Homo sapiens: one gene and its partner. The protein of the gene in region 2 interacts with the protein of the main gene of each other region in a pairwise test. Each region holds a gene or a part of one and is shown on either strand. Other genes may lie near its edges.

Region 1 (3,821 bases), on a different chromosome or scaffold from region 2:
ATGTTGCCCAGGCTGGTCTCGAACTGCTGGGCTCAAGCAATCCTCCCACCTTGGCCTCCCAAAATGTTAGGATTACAGGCATGAGCTACTGTACCCAGCCAACTTTTTTCCCAGCTATTTAAGAAAACTGTGAAATCATTCCATTAGAGAGAAAGCAAATAAAGCATCAATGACTAGCTCCTCAAAAATGCTCTGAGCCTCCTGGGATGCTATGTCCAGGGTCTCTATTTCCATCTCATCACACTATCAACCACACATACCCTTAAGTCCTTTTAAACCTTACATTCCTTGGTTATTATGGCTGGGAGGCTAATTATCCCAGAGAAAAGGACCAAACAAACAAACAAACAAACAAAAACAACCAACCCCCACTCCAGCTGCTGACCACTTTCCTCAAGTGATCGTCTTGATGCTATCACGATCATCTTCTGTGATCAGCAAGGACTGTGCCACTAGGACTAATGGCCACCCTGGGTCTCTTGTTCTAAAGATTATAAATGATGGGCTAGAAAGGGCAAAGCAAATAATTGTTCTACCCACTAATAATTCCTATCAGGATTTTTTCCCTCAAGGAGTACATAGCTCTTCTTTCTAATGAAAAGGAAATTACAGAGATGGAAGAAAAAACAAGTTAAAGAATACTGAACACATCTAAATAAAAACCCATTTTGTACTACTCAAGGTGATCCACAGATTCAATGTAATCCCTGTCAAAACACCAATGACATTCTTCACAGAAATAGAAAAATCCTAAAATTTGTATGGAACCACAAAAGACTCTGAAAGCTAAAGTGATCCTGAATAAAAAGAACAAAAGCTACAGGCATAGGCATCACACTACCTGATTTTATAATTTTCTTTTTTTTTAAAGACAAGGTCTCACTCTGTCACCCAGGCTTGAGTGCAGTGGCATCATTGTGGCTCACTGAAGTCTCGATCTCCTGGGCTCAAGTGATCCTCCCACAGCAGCCTCCTAAGTAGCTGGGACTACAGGTGCACACCAGCACACCTGGCTAATTTTTTTAGTGACAGGATTTTGCCATGTTGCCCAGGCTGGTCTTGAACTCGGGCTCAGCCTCCCAAATTGCTGGGATTACAGGTGTGAGCCACCACACCCAGCCCACACTACCCAATTTAAAAAATTTTTAACTGCTTATTCTCCATAGAAGCCATCATTTTAACAGGAACTAGCATAAAGATGATGCAGTCCACTGTGAAAAGCTTGCTCAGAACTTCTAAGTGATATTAATTTGCATTCAGAATGTCTAGCCTCTAGGGAATCTCACAGAACATGAACCAAAGTTACCTCATCAGCAACAAGGAGGAAGGAATACCAGAAAAGCTCTTGTGGGGGCTGAAATTCCATGTAAAGAGTGATTTCTCTCTTCTAGGTTATCTATTGTGGGGTAACACCTAGAGCAGTATCTTATTCATGATTTTTATACTCATTAAGGGAAAAAAGGAATCTAGCCATTCAAACTACACATGTGTAACAACACATATTATTTACAAAGCAACTTAAGTTGGTTAAGTCTAATGGCAGGTGAATTCATTTTAGAAGCAACCGAGGGAATGAATTCAATTTGAATTTTTTCAAATGAAGAGAATGACATAAGAAAAACCCAAAGCCTTGGAGACAGAAAATTCTGGTGCATTAGAATTTATAAAGACAAGGACAAATGGAAGTTTTAATTCCATCTGGAACTAACAATAGGCAGTAAGATTCAGTTTGCACCAGTCCCTTTACTGGACTGGCTTTAAAAAAATGGACTAAGAGACCAATGCCTTCCAGATCCACTATGGCCATTCACAAGGTCATCTTTTTTAGCAAGAAATTCAAATACTAAATGCAAACAGTTTTTTTTTTTTTTTTTTTTTTTTTTGCTAAAATAGAGCATCATTGTTAGTAAAAATAGGTGAGAAAATGCTCTTTTCCCTCTTCTTTGAGACAGGGTCATGCTCTGTTGCCCAGTCTGGAGTGTGGTGGCACCATCATAGCTCACTGCAGCCTCTAACCCTTGGGCTCAAGTGATCCTCCCATGTAGCTGGGACTATGGGCAGGCACATGCCACCATGCCTGACTAATTTTTTGTGGAGATGGGGTTTCACCATGTTGCCTAGGCTGGCCTTGAACTCCTGGGCTCAAGCAATCCTCCTACCTTGGCCTCCTAAAGTGCTGGGATTACAGGAGCCACCGTGCCTGGCCAAGTTTAATTAAATATGTAAATTAGGGGAAAAGCTCCCCCATCCCCCTCCCTTTTTTGGAAAATCTGGGGAAGGCTCCAGAGCTATCCTGAATCGGAAGCAGCCGTCTTTACAGTCTGAGTCTACCCGGCAGGGGCCAAAGTCTCTGGATAGTCTAGGTTAATGGCCTCCTCTCAATCAACTTGGCTATCAGAATGATCCTTTGGGAAATTTGTTCCCATTGTCTGGATGCTGATGTCTGAAGGCCATAAATGCCAGACAGGCTCAATTTATTTTAAATGATTTTTCCTTTAGGGCCACATGATTGCAGTTTATAAAATGTAATTCAAACAACAGATTTAGAAAATACTCAAAAAGGAAAATACATGGCAGATCTTCACCAGCGAAATATCAGACAGGTTACATGTGGAAAAGACTTAAGTCTGTGTTCAGGAACCCTCACTCCTCTTACTTAAGCAGATTGCTCGTGGGAGGTTCCAACTCTAAAATGCTTTGGCAAATATGAGAAATAACTAAACATGGATCAAATGAATCCATTTGCCCTACCCCTACCCCCAGTCTGATTTCTCTTTACTCCTAATTCCTGCCCTCTCGTGTGTTCTCAAACACTAAAGGGACTTTGAGTGCCATTTTCTAAATAAAAATTCTCATGATCTTGACTGCATCCTAATGAACCTCAAGGAATGATTATTCAATGAAGAAACTAAACTGTTTTTATGTAATTGTTATCTGAAATCGAGGTTGGTGGTATCCTAGGATTTTAAATCCCATTTAAGCATAATCCCAGGGAACTGAATTATGCTTAAATTCTTGCAGGCAAGAAAAATTTCCAAGAAAATCAAAAAGGAAATCTGGTTTCCAAAAAAAGCCAATACCCTCTCTAAGCCACGCTGCCCCTTCTGGGGTCAAAATAACTCAGAAGTCAGTAGCCTTGTGGTAGAGTCCGAAACTTTCTAACTCATGTGTTCTCCTCTAGTATTCGCTATGTCCCCACCCTAGGTTCCTAGCTGTTTATGATCAAGCAAAGTAAGAAGTAAGCTTACCTAACATCTCTTCTTTTAGTCTTTCATTACGTTCTTCAATTTGCTTAGGTAATCTCTGAGGAAAAGAGGAGAAACAAGGGTTGGTAAAAAAAAAAAAAAAACCAAAACCTTTCCCTTTATTTTGAATTTGAGAAACACAAGAATCCTAATGTGGAAATAAGATCAAGTTAAGTATGTCTATGATCCTATTAAATAAAAAAAAAAAACCCCAAGTATTTATGTTTGTGGTGCGCTACATAAAGACAAAAGTTCTGTTTGGGCCAGGTGCAGTGACTCCTGCCCATATTCCCAGCACTTTTGGAGGCCGAGTTGGGAGGATCGCTTGAGCTCAGGAGTTTGAGACCACCTTGGGCAACATGGCAAAATGCTGTCTCTACAAGAAATACAAAAATTAGCTGGGTGTGTTGGCATGTGTCTGTAGTCGCAGCTACTCAGGAGGCTGAGGTGGGAGGGTTGCTTGAATCTGGGAGGTTGAGGGTGCAGTATGCCATGACTGTGCCACTGCTCTCCAGCCTGGGAGTCAGAGACCCTTTCTCAAAAAAAAAAAAAAAAAAAAGTTTTGTTTGGCTCTGT
Region 2 (3,821 bases):
GGCTTGCTTTACCCCCATTCTGGTGCATCCTCCAGACCCTTTTCTATTCTGTGTACAGAGAGAGGGAAATAAACAAAAATGGGCACCCATTTTTAACATATCCTGAGCTTTCTTCCATATTAGTACTTACAGTTCTTAACAACTGCATCGTTTTCCATTCAGTCCTCTGTTGACATTGAGGTTTCCAGTTTTCCACATTCGTGAATGATGGTGTGCATCTTTGAACATGGGTCCTTGCCTGCCTAAGTATTTTTGTAGGTTGATCATTGTAAACTTGGAAAGCACAAAGACAGAAGCCAGGCTTGCTGACTCTTGACTGATGTTGCCCCAGTGATGTCACTCCTGCAAAATGCAAAGCCTGCGTCCTGGCTGTCGGAGCATGTGTGGACATTTGGCAGCTTCTTTCTCTTCCCTCCTGCTCTTCTGTTTGTTTTGATTGGGAAGGATATGGAGTGGGGATGGAGAAGGGTGTTGAGTAATTATCGATGGTTTCTGTATGTTTATTGCTCCTGACTAGCAGTGCTGGGTTTCTTCTCTCAGAGGAAAGCTGAAAGAGATTGCTTTGCTTTTTTCCAGAGTTTTAAAATCAGAGGTGTGTGTCTCGAGTGTATTTTCAGACTTTTTTGTTAGCTTTAATCATGTAAAACATGCAAAAAAAAAAAAAGCATGTGGAAACAATTTTTTTTTTTTGAGACGGGTTCTCGCTCTGTCACACAGGCTGGAGTGCTGTGGGGCGATCTCGGCTCACTGCAACCACCGCCTCCCATGCTCAAGTGATCCTCCCACCTCAGCCTCCTGAGTAGCTGGGACCACAGGTGTGCATCACCACACCTGGCTAATTTTTTTGTGTTTTTGGTAGAGATGGGGTTTCACCATGTTGCCCAGGCTGGTCTCTTATCTGCTGACCTCAGGTGATCTGCCTGCCTCACCCTCCCAAAGTGCTGGGATTACAGGCATGAGCCACCACACCCGGCCGGAAACAAATTTTTGAAGGAGGCATAGATCTCTGTTGTGCAAAATAGATACTTTTTGTACCACTGGGTCCTAGTTTGTCATTGTTCCTTGCATGATCCCATCAGATTTGTCTACAGAGCTGCTGGGGCATGATGGTGTGGTGGCGTATTAAGAACGCAGGTTAGTGGCACACAGATGAAATAAATGCATGTGGGGTGCATTTTTAAGATAGCAGGTGCAAAGTTGTATATACTGAGACCAGGCATTAACACTTGCCTATTACAGTGCCTTTTAAAACACTATGTGAGGGCCGGGTGCAATGGCTCACACCTGTAATCCCAGCACTTTGGGAGGCCTAGGTGGGCAGATCACCTGAGGTCAGGAGATCGAGACCAGCCTGGCCAACGTGGCGAAACCCCGTCTCTCCTAAAAATACAAAAAATTAGCCAGTCGTGGTGGCATGCACCTGTAATCCGAGGTACTAGGGACGCTGAGGTAGGAGAATCGCTTGAAGCTGCGAGGCAGAGGTTGCAGTGAGCTGAGATCACACCACTGCACTCCAGCCTGGGCAACAGAGAAAGAGATTCCGACTCAAAAAAAAAAAAAACAAAAAAAAAAAAAACAAAACTGGACCAAATGAAACAAGTGAATCTGATCTGCAGTCAGTCAGTTTGCAACCCCTGGGAAGCCTTGGACTTGAATGCAAAGATCCCTTGAACTTGGATCTAGTTTGCCTCTGCTGCTCACATGCACATTTAGAGATGGCCAAGGCATACGGTGTTTCTGCTTCCAAGAAACAGAGTGGTTGTCCTGTTTAGCCATCTCTTACAGTCACACAGCTTAAAGAAGATAATGTTTGCAAACAATTTTTGAAATGTCTAGCACACAGCAAACAGAAGGTCAAATTCAGTACTTAATGCTGATAAAATAAGAGAACCCTTGCAAGTCATGTTGCCTGCTTTCTGCCACAGAGAGTACTGCAATAGAACTTTCTGACGTTTTCATGTTGTTTATTTATTTATTTTTTGAGACAGAGTCTTGCTCTTGTGCCCAGGCTGGAGTGCAGTGGTACAATTTCTGCTCACTGCAACCTCTGCCTCTGGGTTCAAGCAATTCTTGGGCCTCAGCCACCCAAGTAGCTGGAATTATAGGTGCGCTCTACCACACCTGGCTAATTTTTGTGTTTCTAGTAGAGACAGGGTTTCACCATGTTGCCCAGGCTGGTCTTGAACCCCTGGGCTCAAGCAATCCACCCACCTCAGCCTCCCAAAGTGCTGGGACTACAGGCGTGCATCGTGACGCCCTGCTGATTTGTGTATTTTTAGTAGAGACGGGGTTCACCTTGTGCTGGTCTCAAACTCCTGGGCTCAAGCAATCTGCCCACCTCAGTCTGCCAAAGTGCTGGGATTACAGGCGTGAGCCATCGTGCCCGGCCTCTCTCTGACATTTTTGAATGGCAAAGGCAAAAATCTTATACTTTTAAGGATGTGGAGAAATAGGAACACTTTTACACTGTTGGTGGGACTGTAAACTAGTTCAACCATTGTAGAAGTCAGTGTGGTGATTCCTCAGGGATCTAGAACTGGAAATACCATTTGACCCAGCCATCGCATTACTGGGTATATACCCAAAGGACTATAAATCATGCTTCTATAAAGACACATGCACACGTATGTTTATTGCGGCATTATTCACAATAGCAAAGACTTGGAACCAACCCAAATGTCCAGCAATGATAGACTGGATTAAGAAAACGTGGCACATATACACCATGGAATACTATGCAGCCATAAAAAATGATGAGTTCATGTCCTTTGTAGGGACATGGATGAAATTGGAAATCATCATTCTCAGTAAACTATTGCAAGAACAAAAAACCAAACACCGCATATTCTCACTCATAGGTGGGAATTGAACAACGAGAACACATGGACACAGGAAGGGGAACATCACACTCTGGGGACTGTTGTGGGGTGGGGGGAGGGGGGAGGGATAGCATTGGGAGATATACCTAATGCTAGATGACGAGTTAGTGGGTGCAGCACACCAGCATGGCACATGTATACATATGTAACTAACCTGCACATTGTGCACATGTACCCTAAAACTTAAAGTATAATAATAATAAAGAAAAAGAAAAAAAAAGATTGCTGTTTTATGATAAAGTGAAGTGCAGCTGTTACTTCTTCCTTCTTTGCTTCCAGCATCTCTCTTCCCTAAGGATTGCTTTTAAAATGTAAGAGTTTTTGGTTGAAATGCTGTTCCTGTGGTTTTTGTCTCTTGGTTGGAGTGAAAGATTTTGCAGGCTGTGATACAAATCCAGTTCTCTGCTTATTTTCTCCTCAGTCCTTGAAATCCAAAACCAGATCCCTCCCATTGGCCCGTTGTAATTAGAACCTGCCCCACAATAGACGCACCTCCTAAAGCATCTCAGATTCATTTCTTTCCTGAGGATTAAGTTTTTAAACCTTCCTGGCCAAGATAACAGTGTTTTAAGAGGCTCTTTTCTTTTATTATTATTATTATTATTATTACTCTTTTCTTTTTTTGAGATGGAGTCTTGCTCTGTCACCCAGGCTGGAGTGCAGTGGCAGGATCTCTGCTCACTGGAACCTCCACCTCCCGGGTTCAAGAGTTTCTTCTGTTTCAGCCTCCTGAGTAGATGGGATTACAGGCATGTGCCACCATGCCCAGCTAATTTTTGTATTTTTAGCAGAGATGGGGTTTTACCATGTTGGCCAGGCTGGTCTCGAACTCCTGGCTTCAAGTGATCTACCCGCTGTGGCCTCCCAAAGTATCAGGATTACAGGCATGAGCCACAGCACCCTGCCAGGCTTGGGTGTTCAAGGAAGAGAAAGAAGGCAGTG

Evidence for each region.
Region 1: the proteins of NDE1 (region 2) and TTC1 interact in a two-hybrid assay, tested with the Homo sapiens proteins (one large-scale study listed by BioGRID).

The regions. Positions count from the first base shown.
Region 1 is NC_000005.10:160,050,611-160,054,431, reverse strand, and holds part of TTC1 (tetratricopeptide repeat protein 1), read right to left. Parts: intron 3,304-3,821; coding exon 3,249-3,303; intron 1-3,248.
Region 2 is NC_000016.10:15,653,056-15,656,876, forward strand, and holds part of NDE1 (nuclear distribution protein nudE homolog 1), read left to right. Parts: intron 1-3,821. UniProt on the Homo sapiens protein: Required for centrosome duplication and formation and function of the mitotic spindle. Essential for the development of the cerebral cortex.